Linked DNA regions of Homo sapiens: region 1 is linked to region 2. Evidence: fine-mapped expression QTL. A gene starts in region 2. The other region holds a variant in brackets. All regions are shown on one strand. Distances are from middle to middle.

What was found. PIP is the estimated chance that this variant, and not a neighbour inherited with it, causes the effect.
Region 1: its variant is fine-mapped to the expression of PPP1R16B in whole blood (INTERVAL, PIP 0.91).

What each region holds. Positions count from the first base shown.
Region 1 is chr20:38,726,187-38,734,821 of GRCh38, reverse strand. It overlaps SLC32A1 (solute carrier family 32 member 1), which reads right to left. Exons shown (of 2, transcript NM_080552.3): 2 at 5,450-7,370. The coding sequence ends at 6,183. Among named protein-coding and RNA genes, the nearest start is that of SLC32A1, 6.0 kb to the right of the region's middle. RefSeq lists enhancers at 2,793-3,318, 5,749-6,408, 7,069-7,729, 7,944-8,481 and a silencer at 7,342-7,636. The variant A/G (reference allele first, on the strand shown) is at 3,306.
Region 2 is chr20:38,802,242-38,810,876 of GRCh38, reverse strand. PPP1R16B (protein phosphatase 1 regulatory subunit 16B) reads right to left here and starts at 5,180. Exons shown (of 11, transcript NM_015568.4): 1 at 5,085-5,180. RefSeq lists enhancers at 1,985-2,034, 2,095-2,144, 3,724-4,562, 5,591-5,860, 5,143-6,004 and 1 more and silencers at 4,131-4,480, 4,541-4,760, 4,951-5,330.

The DNA of each region.
Region 1 (8,635 bases), 76 kb after region 2:
CATGCTCGGCTAATTTTTGTAGTTTTAGTAGAGACGGGGTTACACCATGTTGGCCAGGCTGGTCTCAAACTCATGACTTCAGGTGATCCGCTCTCCTTGGCCTCCCAAAATGCTGGGATTACAGGCGTGAGCCTCCACATCTGGCCTGCCTGACCTTTAAATATTGCTGTTATCCAAGGTCACTGGCCCGGTGCTTTTTAAATGTTCATGCACTCTCCTGGTTGACCTCATAGTTTCTGTGACTTTAGTACTATTAATGTGTCGATAGTTTTCTGAAAATACATTATTTATTTGAACATAATTTATTAAGAACATTCTGTATATCAGGTCTGTGTTAGATAGTGGAGATCCAGTAGGGTGCCAAACAGAGAATATCTCTGCCCTTGTGGAGTTTACTAAAGTTTGTTGCTATGGACCTGTTTATGTTTCCTTCTTTTCTTCCTTTCATCCATGGACCATTTATTGGTCCACCATTCATCTATAATCCATTTTTTTCCTTCACTCACTGATTCATCTATTCATTGGCTCAACCATCCAACCCTTGACCTCAAAGCATTTACTAATCCATCCATCTATTCATCCATCCATCCACCACCCTCCCATTGACCAAACCTTCTCAATATTAGTGGTCCCAAGCCAGTGGCACGTTGGGAACTTGAAAGAAGGAGGAAGAAGAGGAGGAGGGGGTTGAGGAGGAGGAAGAGAAGGAGGAGAAAGGTCTTTCTGAATCTGAATCTAGGGGTTTTGTGGGGAGCAGGAATTTCTAGAAAGCTCCCCATTTTATTCTGATTCACCCAGCCTGGCACCTGCCTATGGAAAGATATTTGGGGACCACTATATTACATTAGAAGCACTGTGAATATAGGATCTTCATTTACCTTTCCCTAAAAGTAGACCCTAAGACAAAGATTCAGATGCAGTCAATTTATGTGGGAGGTGAACCTTGAAAGTAGGGAAAGGAAGAAAAGGAAGGGGGAAAGGCCAAATAAAGATTGCTTTGATGAGCTTGTGGACACCTGAGGTTCAATCCTGCTGGGGACCCTCCAAGATACCTTGTGGAATAGACCTAAAATGGTCCCATCACAGGACAGGAGACAGGCATTTATTGCCAATTGATTGAGCACTAGGGGCTGTTAGCTGCCCGACAATTCCAAGTCATGCTCCCAAGGTAGCCTAGAAAGCCCTCAGGGAGATGAGGAGAGATGGAGGCACTGGCAGTGGTTCATGTTCCACAGCTTCAGGTAAACTTAGGTGCATCTAGGGAACATAGGGTGGGCACTGACAACTACCAGAGAGGCCATGTCTGTCTTGTTTCCTGTTGCATTCCCACACATTAGACCTTAGCCTAGTGTGTGGCCTAGAGTGGGTGCTTAACAAATATTTGATAAATAAATCTTGTTTAACTACCAGACCTTGAAACAGGAACTGAATCACACTAACAATTCCTTTAATTGTGCTCTCCCTTCTAGCTGCACCGCCTTCCCTTCTAGACACCACCAACCCCTCTATAGCATCCTCAGCCTTTTCACCCTGTTTCCATCCCACCCCCAAGAGGGTTGCTGGAAGCTTCTGGAATCGTAAAGCTCCCTCCACCCCACCCGCTATGTGACTCTGCTGGACCATGCTGCTGGGTGTCCCTGGTCAGAGGCTCTGCTCTCACTGTGCCTTCCTGGACTCCACAACTGGCAGAGATGGTGCCCAAAGCATCACTGTGGAACCAGCTATAGTCAGACTCTTGAAAAATCTCAATCCAAATCTCCCGGGGGGGCAGAGCTCATCTCCCAGGCCTGGCCTCACATCCAGGACCAGGATTAGCATGAGGCAAGTGAGGCATTTCCTTTGGTAGCAAAATTTAAGAGGGTGCAAAAAATCCAGAAAGCAATATAAATAAAATTTTAATGCAATATTTTTTAAAAATCAAAATTAATGCAAAAGTGAACCATAACGTTCAAAATAATGTAAGCAAAATAACAATATCTGAGGTAAAGAAAGGATGGATATTGCTTTTTTTGCCTTGGTCTCCAGTGTGGCTCAGATTAGTGCTGTACTGATGCTGTGCTATCTGAATGTCACTGTTACTTGTCCTGAAAGCTTAAAAATTTGGGAGGGGTGGCTGGGCACAGGGGTTCATGCCTATAATCCCAGCACTTTGGGAGGCTAAGGCAGGGGGATTGCTTGAGCCCAGAGTTTGAGACCAGCCTGGGGAACATGATGAGACTCTGTCTCTACAAAAAATTTAAAAATTAGCTGAAAATGGTAGCACATGCCTTGCCTGTGGTGTCAGTTGCTCGGGGGGCTGAGGTGGGAGGATCACTTGAGCCCAGGAGGTCAAGGTTGCAGTGAGCTGTGTTCTCACCACTGCACTCCAGCCTGGGTGACAGACCGAGACCCTGTCTCAAAAATGATAATAATTATTTGGGAGGGAAATATACTGATGTCTGCAACTTTTGAATGTTGTTTTTTTTTTACAGGTAGACTGTTGGATGGATAGATGGATAGGTATGGGGTAGATACAGTGTTTTAAACTGTTAATCATCCAGTCTAGGCGGCGGTGGGTGTGGGTGTATGTATGTTCAGTGTGGAATTCTTTCACCTTTTCTATACATTAGAAATTCTTCATAATCTTGAAAAGGAAAAAACGAAAGAGCTATGAGAAGGACACCCAAGGCTGGCTCTCTGAGGTCAAACAAGTGCAACGAATGAATCCTTGGCTGTCCAGGACTGAGTACCCTACCACACCCTCACTCATGGTGAGGATGGAGCCCACCTAGGGACCTGCCCCCTCCTTGACCAAAGCCTCTCTCTGGCTCTTGTCCCTGAAGTCCCCTCTAGAATAGCAAGGCCTGGATCCTCTCCACTTCCTGGATGGCCCCCATGGAGCCTGTTTGGCTCCCTCCCTACCAGGTCTTTAAGTGAGGAACACTCAGTCCCTGGGATAAGACGGTGTCATATAACAAAACATGTTCAATAATAAGCATCCATCCATGTTTGGGGAAAAATGACTAAAAACTTTTGTAATGTTGAGGACCTGAAATAAAGCACTAGAAAGAAGCAATGCTTATCAACTAAGCAGGAGGTGGGGTAGGGGGAGACAAGAAGCATTTAGGACTAGGGTGGAGAACCGTCCTTGCGGGCCGGCAGTTTGCGCTCTCACCGCTAGGGGGCGAGGCAGGGCGGTCTTGGGACCGTGCGATCGCGATCCTGGGTTCCGCCGGCGCACGTGGGTCTTGGTGGTTCCAGGTCCTGGCCCCAAGGCAAGGGGCCAGGTACACCTACACACTTATGCTGCGGACCCAGGTGGGGAC[A/G]GCTTACAGGGTCTGCAGCACGTCCAGCTAGGGTGCCCCATAAGAACTGATGTGAGCCCTGTGGGGCTGACGCGGATTCCTCCTCTCCTTCTCAATCCGATCCCAGAATGAGCCTTGCCAGAACTATCTGCTCTCTTGGACTTGCACAGCGAGCCCACTGCGAGGAAAGCTGGGACTTCTTCCTTTCAACATCTACCTTTACGCTTTAGTGATGGTGGAGGTGGGGGTAGATGGGTGGGGGAGATGAGAGGTGCAGAGACGGGTGCCATCCACTCCTCCTCCTTATTTCTCTCAGTAGCCTGGATGCGAGTCCGGGTATCGGTGTCCTACCGACCAGGGTTTCGGGTTTCCCTTGGGCGTCTAGGGTGCTAGTTCTCCCGCCCCTGCCACCCTCAGGATTCGCCCCCTAGGACAAGAGACGCTGCAAGCTGAGCACAAAACCTGGAGCCAGGATTAGTGGAGCGGATCCAGGCGAGCCCGCAGAGTTGGCGCCGCTATCCGGAGCCTGCCTAGTGTCTCCTTCGACCTTTTAAAGACGGGAAGGACAGAGATGGTGCAGCGTGACGCTCCCACCTTCCCTTCCACCATAGAAGTCCGGGATTTTTCTGAAGGCGACACACTGACTCGGAGAGCACCCCAGGGTCCGTGGACCCGCTGAGAAACCTTGGGAGTTGGGGCGGGGGAAGAACAATCAGCTCCCCACCCCACCCCTCGGCCCCAGGCCTGGGAGACGTCAGTGGTCATGGGAAGACGAGAAACTGAGGACCCTTCAGCCAGTGCCGGATCCTGAACACGCGACAATAGTGACCCCGGGGAATTAGGCCGAAGGTAGCGGACTTCTCAGATGGCCCGTTTTAAAGCATTAGAGCCACAGTGATGGCTGAGGACACCGGGTCCTATCCCTCCTCCCTTCCCACTCCAGGTCTGTGGCCGCAGAACCAGGGTGATGCGAGGTCACCTCTGTCGCAGGCGCTTTAGGGAGCACGCCCACCCGGATGCTCGGCACACACGCACACACGCACACACACTTACCAAGGTTCTCACAACACACGATGCAGCCTGCCCCACCCCACACGCATATCTTCACCTAGCCTCTCACATGCCCCTTGCAAGCGGGCGGGGAGCAACACACACCCTACTTAGGCATTCTCCCTGGCTTCTTTCCCGTGCACCATTCGCACCTGGAGAAGTCGTTCCTAACGAAGCCTCTGCCTCCGTGGTGACAGCGGACCCTGGAACCCACCCAGCGGACTTGCACTCCCAGCTCCCACCCAGAAAGTCTGACTCTGACCTTTCCCAACAGTCCCTGGACTGGCCCTCCTGGAGTCAGTGCAGGTGCTGCGCCTGGAGTGGGATCAGCACAAAAAAGACTAGATCTTTCGGGTAATTCAGGCAAACACTTTATCAGACAGGCTGCGCAAGATAGGGGGAGACTGGGACCCTACAACTTGAGGCTGTTGATTCTAGAGTCAGATCTCTTTGCTATGGCTGTGCAAACCCCACCTTGGATTGCACGGCAGGGTTCTCCTGGGTGGCAGATGCCTCCTGCCGGGCCAGATTGGCTCGTGGCTCTGGGGACCTGGTGAAAGGCACAGCCCACTTCTGACTTCCTTTGTAGCCCTCTTCACAATCTGAAGTCACGTTGTGGATTCCTGCCTGTCCTTGTTTATTGCCTGTCTCCACCTCACTAGACTGTAAGCTCCCGGAAGGCAAGGCTGAGTTTCTTTCCCCAGGTTTCCAACACTGCCCCAGCCCTGATTGGCTGTTTATAAATATTTGTTGAACAAATTTATAAAGTTCTGGTACATAAAAGCTCCCCCTGTCCCTCTCTGTTTTGAGGTTGGAAGTTGAGAGCTTCCACCAAATTCTCAGATGGACCCGCCCCCAGGGGAGAGATTCGAACAAACCTCGACCTGGCAGCTGAGGGGGCCGCTACAGCACTCTCCGTCTTCAGCTTCCTCCTCACACCTGAGGAGCCTCCTCGCCGCCAACTAATCTTTGTACTCCCTAGAGCCCTCCCCGGACCCTTTAACCACAGCTGCTCACCATCTCCGGTTTCAGCCGGCGGGAGCCAGTTCCCACGCCTCCCAGCGCCAGGGGATCCCGGCTGGTACGAACACACAAACCCGACACCGGGCCGCGCAAGCCTTTGTCTCTTCTTTATTTGCGGATATAATTATGTACCGCACTCTAAATTAGAGATAGATTTTTTTCTGATATACATTTCATCTTATTCACCACGAGCACACCACACGCACAGTAGAACAGTTCCACACCTGATAAATTGCACAAGATGAGAGTTTAGATTCCTGAAAACCGGCAGGCAAGCTGGCCCCGCCGCGGCTTCTCGCCTTCCGGCTTCGTTGAAGGAAATTGCCCACCCAAAATGGATTTCCCAGTCAGCCTTTCCCGCTGCAGGGTTGAAACGTCTCCGGAATGGGAAGCGCTCTTGCTGGAAATGGCTGGACGCTGTAGATTCCGAGCTCTGGATGGATGTGAAATATTCCCCCAAGGTCAAGTTGCCACGCCTGCGAGCTGCGCCCCCTCTCCCTCCCTTCCCAACCCCCTCGATGACTGGAACCAAAGTGTCGGGGCCCCACTTGGAAGGACAGAGAACCCTGCCCGCAAATGCACCCCGCCTCCCCCCAAAACCAGGGTGTTGTGGAAAAGAAAGGACAACAGAAACGCAGACGCGATGGATCGTGAATCCCTGTCCCCTCCCATCCCCCCCATCCCCGAATAATCAGAAACTAGGAACCAGAGATGTTTAAAGCTTGGCCTCCCAAGCGCGGCGGCAGGGCGCACTGGGCTGGTGGGGGCGGGGTGAGGGGAGAAGGGAGAGAGCGCAGAAGCGCGGCGGGGGCTCGCCCTTGCGCCCTAGTCCTCCGCGTTGGTTCGGTAGGCTTCGATGAGGCCCTCGAGGGAGTGCACGAAGCCGGACACGCTGCAGATGCCGCCGATGACGAAGATGGCGACGTCGAAGAAGACTTGGTGCCACAGCAGCTTGCGCCAGAGCAGGCGCAGGTGAAAGAGGCTGGGCAGCAAGAAACAGAGGCCGGCGCCCGTGAGGCTGCCGGTGAGGCCCATGAGCAGCGCGAAGTGCGGCACATAAATGGCCATGAGCAGCGTGAAGACGACGAGCGCGCAGCGCAGCGTCAGCCCCCAGGACTTCAGGCGCCCGTCGCCGCTGTAGCAGGCCGGGAAAAAGGCGCGGCTGCCTTCCTGGAAGAGCGACTTCTCCAGCACCTCGACAGCGGCAAAGAATGGCAGAGGATAGGACAACAGCGCCTTGGCCACCAGAAAGATGTTGACCACGGCGCGGATGGAGCCGGGCAGGTTATCCGTGATGACCTCCTTGGTCTCGTCGGCCCAGGTGAGGTAGGCGACGAGCGCGAAGAGGCCCTTGAGCACGCAGGCTGCGATGTGCGTCCAGTTCATCATGCAGTGGAACTCGCTGGGCTGCTGCATATTGCCCTCCAGCGAAGGCAGGAAGATCTGAGACGTGTAGCTGAACACGATGATGCCAATGGAGATGGGGAACTTCTTGACGTCGATGTAGAACTTGACCTTCTCCCAGGCCCAGTCGCGCGCCCGCGATAGACAGTAGGCTATGACCAGGATATTGATGACGAAGTGGGCCAGAGTGCACAGCAGACTGAACTTGGACACGGCCTTGAGGTTCTTAAGGAAGGCGCAAGGCAGCAGCACGGCCGTGGCGATAATGGACCAGGACTTCTGCGACACGGGCAGCCCCGGGAAGCTGTTGTACATGAGGTTGCCACTCACCACCACGTACAGGATGCACGTCATCACCAGCTCGATGATCTGCGCTACGTTCACCACTCGGCCGCCCAGCGTTGGGAAGCGCGGGGCGCAGCAGGCGTTGGCTATGGCCACGTACGAGTCCCGCACGCGCACCACCTCGCCGTCTTCATTCTCCTCGTACAGGCACGCGATGAGGATCTTGCCGGTGTAGCAGCACACAACGGCGGCGAAGATGATGAGAAACAACCCCAGGTAGCCGCCGTGCAGGATGGCGTAGGGTAGGCCCAGCACGAACATGCCCTGTGGGGCGGAGAGGCAACCAGACGCGGACGCTCAGCGAACTTGGCAACGGATGAGGGGCCCGGGGGGCGTGGCTTAACGCTGTGGCCCGAAGGGGGCGCTAAGGACACTGAGAATTGGGTCTGAGCCGCCGGGGAGGAGAGGTTAAGAGCAGGCTGCGGGGTGGATGTAGGGGAACTAATAGTGAGCCCGGGTGTCGAGCCAGAGATGGAGAGGGAGGGATGTATGGACGGATCTGAGAAGGAAAGGTGCGCTAATGGCTGGTGATAGCGAGAGGGCTAGGGTGGGAGAGGGCTGAGAATAGGGAGAAGCCACAGGAGGGAAGGGAGATACTTCGGGATGGTTTCTGGGGACAGGAACAGAATGAGGAGTTGGGGGAGGAGATGAGAAGGGACAGAAGGGAGCGTAGTCGGAAAGGGGCTCTAAGAAAGGTAGTGAGCTGGGCCTGGGCCAGTGGAAAGAGTGGGCACGGGATTTGTGGTGGGGCTGGAATGGGGCACGGGAGCTAAAGAGGAAAACTCGGGCGTCTCAGGCTCAGACCAGAGGAGGAAACGTTAAAGGCTGCAGTTGTGAGGCGAAAAGGAAATAGGGTAGAGAGGGAGAGGGGCTGAAGGTGGGGCAAAGCCCCTGGGAGGCAAGAACAGAGACAATGTGAAGACGCTTGGGGAGCAGCGCGCGGGGAGGAGGAAGCAGGGCTGGAAATTGAGAGTCTTAGGACAAGGCTGGAGTTAGAGTGAGGCGAGGGCGAGACCTAAGGAAGGGGACTAAGTGGAGGCTGGGGAGGCAAGCAGGAGGAGGAGCTTGGCGGGAAGGCGCCAGGGAGGCCAGAAAGCCGAACCGAGCAAGAGTCTAGAACCAGAAGCTTCAGGGTCAGGCGGACAGGGCTGTAGGGTTTAGAATCCACACGGGGACTAAGAGCTAACGAAATCCAGGGTCCCGGAGGCCTACGAGCCTCCAGCCTCCTGCCCTGGCCTCCCTTGGGGCCTATCAAACGGAGCCTTGAAAGACGCCCCGGGAAGTCGCGGGGCACAGCGAAGGCGGGAGCAGCCCCGGGTCCGTGATCCAGCAAGGCCGTCTCGCCGGGCCCCGGAGCGGAAAGCGCCTTGGGTCGGGCCATCTGGTGTTCGGGGCCCGGTGGAGTCCTGCTTACCCCGATACATGGAACAACCCCTGGGAGGCCTCTGCTCCCAGAAAACCTGCCTTCCGTGGCCCCAGTGATAGTGCGCTCCAGGGACGCCGCGGGGCCAAGCTGTAAGGGACCGGGG
Region 2 (8,635 bases):
GCAACTTTGAGATGCCCCCCAAGACGTGAGTTCCTGTCACTTACAAGCTGCATGCCCTTTAGCAAATTGCCTCACCCTCTGTGCCTCGGTTTCTCCCTCTGTGCAGTGGGGGATAAGTGCATTCATTTCAACGGATTGGTATGAGAATTCAATGGCGATGCAAGTAAAGACCTTTGACAGTGACCAGCATCCAGAAATGCACTTGGTGCTATATCATGATCAATCAGTGAGTCAGGTCATGACGCTTCCTCCACTTCTACCCTCTTCTCTCAGGTGAGAAACTGAGTCCCAGGAAGAGAGAAACAAGTGCAGAGGTGGGAAAAGCATCTCAGGAAGAGGGAGTGGACCTCTTCTTCTTCGTGCTTCCTGGGTGGAATGAAGAGGGAAGGATGGTGAATGTATGGATAGTTGAGCAGAGACCAGCCCTTCCTCCCATGCAAAAGTTAATCCTGAAGTTTCCTGGACAACCCTCACTAGAGAACCACCCTCCAAGGAAGGTGCAGAGGGACTGCCTCGGGTCAGTGAGTGTTTAATCCTTCGGGGCTCCCGGCAGGATAGCCTCTGCTACCTCCCTGGCCTTGCTTCTGCCTCCATCAAACTTTCTCATGACTCTGCTCCATCAGCAACTCCTCCCACTGCTCTCCAAAAACATCCAGCACTTTTAAGCCTCGGTGCCTCTGCACATGCTGTTCTCCCGGCTAGGGCTGCCCTACCACCTGGAAAACTGTCACTGAAGGGCTCAACATGCTCCCACAGCAACTTTTGCCCACCTGTTATTGGCAATAATAGACTAATAATAGCAACGAACATCTGTGAGCACTTATTAATATCTAGAAAGCCCAAGCTGGGTTTTTAAGTTTTTTGGTTTTGTTTTTTTTTTTTTTTTTTTTTCGAAACAAGGTCTTACTCTGTTGCCCAGGCTAGAGTGCAGAGGTGCACGCAATCATGGCTCACAGGAGCCTCCACTTCCCCCGTTCAGGTGATTCTCCCACCTCAGCCTTCCAAGTAGCTGGGACTACAGGTGCACACCACCATGCCTGGCTAATTTTTTGTATTTTTTGTAGAGACGGGGTTTTGCCATATTGCCCAGGCTAGTCTCGAACTCCTGGAGTCAATCAGTCTGCCCACCTCTGCCTCCCAAATTGCTGGGATTACAGGCATGAGCCACCGCACCTGGTCCAAGCTAGGTTTTTTATCCACAGTGTCTCACTTCTCTCCTCACATCATCATCTTAGGGAGGTGGCTTATCTGCTTGAGAGGTAAGGCCTCTGTCCATCCTCACCCAGCTACAAGGTGGCAGCTTCAAGATTCAGACCTGGGTCAGCCTGAGCCATGTGGATCTGCTCGTCACTCTCTCTTCTTGCTGTTGCAGCCTTTATCCCACAGTGTCCTCATTATCTGTCTCCAGGCCTGCCTCTCCCCATAGAGGGAGAACTCTGAGAGCTGCCTCATTCATCTTGAAATCCCTTGCTAAGCACAAGGGCTGGGATGGAATAAACGTCTTTTGAATGAATCAATGAATCCTGGAAAATGGCAGTCAGCTGAGAAAGGCTAAGTGGCTGCTCACAGACTCCCCGGGGAAAAGCTGGTGCTAGACTCAAGTTCCCAGGAGTGAGCCCCCACCCCCGCCCCAGGAGACAGGCTGAGAGGCTTTCCCCGTCCTGATGGCTACAGGCAGAAGAGACAGGGTCGCACTCACTCCCCACCCTAGCACTGGAGGAGGTGGGACCTTTGAGAGTCCAACACAAAGGAGGAAATAGTAGTGATGGTGACAATGATCATTTCCTGCATTCCTACCCACACCAGATGCTGTACTGAGCACTTTTTTTTTTCTTTTTCTTTTTGAGATGGAGTCTCGCTCTGTCACCCAGGCTGGAGTGCAGTCATGTGATCTCGGCTCATTGCAACCTCCTGCTCCCGGGTTCAAGCAATTCTCGTGCCTCAGCCTCCCAAGTAGCTAGGACTACAGGCATGCGCCACCATGCTGCACTAATTTTTGTATTTTTAGTAGAGATGGGGTTTCACCATGTTGGCCAGCTGGTCTCGAACTCCTGACGTCTAGTGATCCTCCCGCCTTGGCCTCCCAAACTGCTGGGATTACAGGTGTGAGCCACTATGCTCCACCCTAGTACTGAGCACTTTCTATGTGTTAATGGTCTCATGGAATCCTTACAATCCCACAAAGTAGGCATTACTGTGATACCTATTTTACAAATGAGAAAACCAGACTCAGAGAGATTAAGTCATGTATACAGGGTCACAGAGCTTTTAGGTATAGATCCCTAATTAAAATTAGACCTCTCTGGCTCCCTCACTCTTCATACTCGTAGCTTTCTGTAAGAGGCAGGCTTGTCCGAGCCCTTCTTGAAGCCCAATTGCTAAGATGCACTCAGGACAGTGAAGGTTTTCCTGGTCTCTGCTGGAAGAGTGCCAGTTGGGACCTCCTGGTCAACAAATGTGACAAGAGTCCTGGGTGCAGGAGGGGTGGTGGCTAGGTTGGGAGAGGGGAGGGAAAGGTTGGGGGGATGGGGTCCCAAGAGTCCAAGCACAGCACCTGAATTCAGGTATGTGCCTTCTGCCTTCTCCTAAACCAGGTTGGCTGCAGCCTCTGTTGCTACACTTGGGGCATGGAGCTGGTTTTGAGAGGAGCTGAGCCCCAGTTTTCCCATCTGCAAAATGGGAATCAGTAATGCCTACTTCACGGGGTTGTGAGGATTCTGTGAGGCCATCACACATAGGCCTAGTTTCCAAAGGGCTCAAATGGGCTCTGCAGAAAGGAGAAAGGTTCTGGCTTTAAGGAAAAACCACCTGCCTACATCAGTATCCTCTTAGCCCTGTGGCTCAAGCTCCTGAAATGACTTAACAGCTAGATTAGAATTTAACCTCCACTCCGTCAATTACCAGGGAGAGCAAAGTCTGAGTGGGCACAGGGCCTTGCCTACCGTGTCTTTCTAGGCCATGGATGATCTGGAGAGCACAGATGGCACGGGGCCCTTGACACATGAACCACAGAGCCACTAATGAGTGTCACGGTGGTAGGAGACCAAAAGAGGGGAAAGAAGACATTACAGAGGCTGGGAAGAGCTGGAGCCAGGAAGGTTCCAGGACAGGGGAACACTGTTAGGTAGACCCCAGTAGACAAGTAGGCACAGAGTTGACAGTCCAGGGTGGCCTGGTTGACATCTTGCCCCCAGCATCCTGGGGACTCAGCCAGGAAGATGGGATTTGGGTGACAGGTGGGAGAGAAGGGCATGGGAGATTTGTGTGGGAAGGGCCGTGTGAGCAGGCAGCCGGCTGGAAGGATTTGCTGGCCCCCACCGGCCTCCTGCAAGCTGGCTTTTTATGACAGAGCTGGGGGAGGAAGATGTGGAAACTCCCCCAGCCCCTGCAGAACCACCCACCAGGGCTCCACTTCTGCACCTGTCTAAGAGAGACACGCCCCACTCAAAGCCAATCCCGAGGGCGGCCAGTATTGGCCAAGGAGTGTTCATCCTCCCGCTCTGCTGCACCCAGCCTCTCCCTCATCTCCCCACAGCCTGGCGGCTGTTAGCCCCGTATCTTAGAGGCAGTTGAGACTCCAGAAGCCAAGTACCTTGCCCACGAGTAGACAGCTAGTCGCTGGCTGGGCTAAGAAGCTTTATTACCAGCCTTGGAGGAGGCCTCCTAGATGGACGGTTTTTCTCCGGTGCTTCACCAGCCGCAGGAAATGGCAGGGTACACAGGGAAGTACCCCTGCGGACTGAGGCCGCCATCGGCAGGCCCTTTCCAGGGAGAGCCCTGCGGGAAAGGGCGCCTGTACCTCCGGGCCCCGGGTCCTCCACAGAGGGTGATTCAGAGGCGGCACCTGGTGTCCAGAGCCGCGGAGAGCTGGGGGGCTCTTCTGACAGTGAAAACAGGGGCCCTTTATGTGAAATGCAATCACATGGGCGCGCAGGCAGCTCGGTTTTCGGTTCCTAGAAGCGCTGATGAAGCCACATCCCTCTCCCTCCGCTCCTGAGGTGCCCGGGAGCACCGGGACCCAGGCCTGGCGCGCGGCAGCGGCGCAGCCCTGGGGTCTCAGGAGGGCCAGATTCAAAGCTCTCCCAGGCTCAATTATCCTCCAAGGGCTGGGAGCTGCATCATCAGCATCTCCAGTGAAGCTGGAGGCCGGGCCGGGGTGGGGGAGCGGAGGAAGGGAGTCTACATGGGGGAAGGAGGAGGGCAGCGAGCGCCTGCCTCCCGGCTCTCCACCCGGGGCGGTCTGGGCAGCTCAGCCTGGGCACTCCGGGTGACCTTGGGGAGACCCCTCTGGGCGACCTCTCAGGGGCGGCTGCACGTCTCCGCCCATCCTCGGCGCCCGGGGGCGCTCCTCTGGGCCGGAATCGATGAGCCGGAGTCGCCCAGAGGGGAGCGCTCCTGGCGCGGGGGACCCAGCCGCCGGCGCACGGGGCCCTGGGAGAGGCCGGGCGCGCCCCTCCCGGGGAACTACCACTCGCGGGGTCTCCCCGGGCTGGCTGGTGCTGTCAGCCGGATCCTGAGGCGGGGCGGGTCTGCAGGTGGAGGCGCCTGCCTTGGGGATCTTTCCCGCCCGGGCAGGAGCGCTCTCTGCGCCCTGCCGCTGCCCGCCAGGACCAAGCCCCGCCACGCGAGGGGGCGGCACCACCATGCCCGGCCGGGAGAGTGCGCGGGGGGGGGTTGTTTGGTGTCCGCTGTGGCTCCCGCCGCCCGGCATTGCACCCCCGGCAGACGGCGGCCCCATGAGTCCAGAACAGACCGAGGACCCCACCTCCCCGCCCCAAGATCGGTCTACGACGGCCGCAGCCAACAACCTGCCAATGCGCCCCCTCCCCTGGCCTCGTCAAGGAATTGCGAGGCCGGGGAGAACGCCCCCATTCCAGCCCGACTCCCGGACCTAGCGCTCTCGGTACCCGTCTTTCCAGAGTCCCCACACTCCCATTTATCTCAAGCTATCGTCCCTTGGCCAAAGCGCCCCGGCCCCCAGCTAGGTGATAGCAGGCTGGGACCACCTCCCCGCCCCATCCTCATCCCCCGCCCTGCGAAGCCGCAGAGCGCAAGGAGGGTGGTGGCGCCGCCGGGGAACTCACCCGCTCTCCCGAGCCCTGCCCCGGGCGGCTCCCGACCCCGGCTGTGTCTGTGGGTCCCCGAGCCGCAGCTGCTCCAGCGGCGACAGAGCTGGCTCTGCTCGGCCGCGAGCCTCCGCGCCGCCTCTCGGCTCCTCCCCCAAGGCGGGGCCTGAGCTCCTGGGACTGGGGTGGGCGCGCTCAACCCCATCCGGCTTGGGAGGCAGCGCGGGACAGGGTCCCGGCGCTCTCGGGTGGGGACCCCTCTTCTGAGCTGCAGGAAGTTGAAACCGGTTGGGACGTGGCCAGGCTTCGGAATAGTTTTCCTAACGCTGCCCCCTCCTCCAAAATAGTTTTCCTAACCCCCACCCCGACCATGGAAAGAGGGAAGCCAAGGACGGTATCCCTGCTCCCATTTGACAGACGGGAATCCTGAAGCCCAGAGAGGAGTGGTAACCTGCTCAAGGTCACACAGAATGAATGCCAGGGCCAGGAACTCAGGGTTCCTAGCTTGAAGGCCTGCGCGGCCTGAGTCTGAAGGCTTCCCAGGAGGTCCAGGGGCCGGCCCTGGCCTTGCGCTGGGGACAGATCTGTGGGGCCAGGTCCCCCAGCTGCTGGGGCCGAGACATGGGGGCTGTGGCCTGCGGTGTGGACTCGCATCATTTCCTCTTTCTGGAAAGAAGGGAGGTGAAGCGCTGGAGGAAGGAAGTGGTCGTACCTCTGCTGACGTCTGACGCCCTTTGAGATGTGCAGGATGAAGATAGGGGCTGCTTCCCTGAGATTTAACGCTAAAAATAAAAAGCAAAACATACCCGGTGGCTTCTGTCACCTCATTCAAGCCTCTTTCTGGGGCTGAAGGCCTCTGCACTCTGTGCACCAGCCTTTCTTTACAACACAATGGGTTTAACTATTTAAGTTGCTGAGAGTCACCCCCCACCATCACCACCCCAGGAAGAGAAAAGAAAGTTCATAAACAAAGCAGAGAAAACCTCCCCAAACATTCTCTGGAATCCACATTTGCTGAACCCTGGCCTTAGAACAATAGGTTTCTCTTCTCCACAAAGGCCTTGTTTCCTGAGCTTTCCCGGCCTACAGATGAGAGCCCTAGGCACCCCAGGGCCAGCCAGCTGGGGAAATTCAGAGTTTAAGTTTGGGGAGTTTGGGGATGGTACCCAGTTAATTTGATTCTCAGCTGTCATGTTTGAGGAACTCGCCCGAATCCTTTTTTTTTCACTGGCAATATTCTTTTGAGGCCACCAGCATCACCTGAGTTTAGTGATTTTCTGTTTGCTCAGTCACCTTTCTTGGGGGAGAGAAAATCTGTGGGTTGAACTTGTTCCAGGCCCCCAGGCCCTCTCCAGGAACTCTGTAAGCCCCCTTCATTGGCTCCCTGGCTCCCTCTCAGTTCATTAATAATCCAGTTGTGAATGACACTGTTTCAGGAAAAGCAATTAGACAGTAGAGCATGTGGGGAAGACTTAAAGCCATGTTTAAAATAACCCAAGGGAATCATTGTTCTCCGAAGAATGTTTCCATTGATTGATAATGAAGAGCCATGGGCTGAGAGGATGGGAACCCATCTCTCCAAGGCTTGTGTGGCACTTGGGGCCTGTGTTCCTAAAATAAGGCCTTTGGAGGGAGGGGGCTCCCAACTCCAATGTCATGCTGTTCATTCACCTCTCACACTGTGTTCGGTATCAAAAGTTAAAGTAAATTCAGAATAAGTTGGGGGACTCACAAGTCCTGATTTCAAAACTTACTAGGAAACTTCAGTCATCAAGGCAGGGTGGTACGGGTATAAGGATGGGCATACAGACCAATGGAATAAAACTGAGAGTCCAGACAGAAGCCCTTACACTTACTGCCAATTGATTTTCAACAAGAGTGCCAAGACAATTTAATGGGGAAAGAATAGTGTTTTCAAAAAATGGTGCTGGGACAACTGGATATCCACATGCAAAAGAATGAATTTGGATCCCTGCTTCATACTATATGCAACATATAGATCTAAATGTAAGAGCTAAAACTATAAAACTCTCTGAAGAAAACATAAGCCTAAATCTTCATGACTTTGGATTAAACAGTAGTTGCTTAGATATTAGCACAAGCAACAAAAGAAAAAAAAATAGATAAATTAAAAACTTTTGTGCTTTCAGGGGTATCATCAAGAAAGTGAAAAGTTATGGCTGGGCCTGGTGGCTCACACCTATAATCCCAGCATTTTGGGAGGTGGAGATAGGAGGATTACTTGAGGCCAGGAGCTCAAGACCAGCCAGGGCAACATAGTGAAACTCTGTCTCTACAAATTCTTTTAAAATTAGGCAGACGTAGTGGTTCATGATTGTAGTCCTAGCTATTTAAGAGGATTGCTTTTGCCTAGGAGTTCAAGGCTGCAGTGAGCTATGATGGTGCTACTGTACTCCCGCCTGGGTGACAGAGCAAGACCCTGTCTCTAAAAAAAAAAAAAAAAAAAAATTAAACATAAAAAGAACAAAAAGAGAGTGAAAAAATAACTGTTATAAGCTGAATTGTGTGCCCCCTCACCCCCATTCATATGCTGAACTGTACTGGTTACAGTCTCAGAACCTCAGAATGTAACTGTGGATGGAGATAAGGTCTTTAAAGAGGTGATCATCTTAAACTGAGGCCCTTGGATGGGGCCCTCATCCAATGACTGGTGTCCTCATAAGAAGAGACACTAGAGATGCGCCACACAGAGGAAAGACCAGAGGAAGGCACAGGGAGAAGAAGGTTAATTACAAACCAAGGAGAGAGGACTCAGGGCTGGGGGACCAGACCTGCCAACACCTTGATCTCAGAATTGTAGCCTTCAGAATTGTGAGGAATAAATTTCTGGGGGTTTGTTTTGTTTTGTTTTTTTGACATAGAGTTTCACTCTGCTGCCCAGGGTGGAGTGCAGTGGCACGATCTTGGCTTACTGCAACCTCCACCTCCCAGGTTCAAGCGATTCTCCTGCCTCAGCCTCCTGAGAAGCTGGGATTACAGGTGCATGCCCCCACGCTCGGCTAATTTTTGTATTTTTAGTAGAGTAAGGGTTTCACCATGTTGGCCAGGCTGGTCTCAAACTCCTGACCTCAAGTGATCCACCCACCTCGGCCTCCCAAAGTGCTGGGATTACAGGTGTGAGCCACCGCACCCAGCCAATTTCTGTTGTTTAAGCCACCCAGTCTATAGTATTATGTTATGGCAGCCTTGGCAAAATAATACAATATCCCACAGAACGGGAGGAAATATTTGCAAATCATATTCCTGGTAAGGGACTTATATCTAGAATATATAAGGAACTCTTACAACTCTATAATAAAGAGACAAATAATAAAAAATGGGCAAGGAGCCTGGGCAACATGGCAAAACCCTGACTCTACTAAAAATACAAAAAGTTAACTGGGCATGATGGCATGGGCCTGTAGTCCCAGCTACTGGGGAGGCTGAGGTGGGAGGATTGTTTGAACCTGGGAGGCAGAGGTTGCGGTGAACCAAGATCACACCACTGCACTCCAGCCTGGGCGACAGAGCGAGACCCAGTCTCAAAAAAAAAAAAAAAAAAAAAAAAA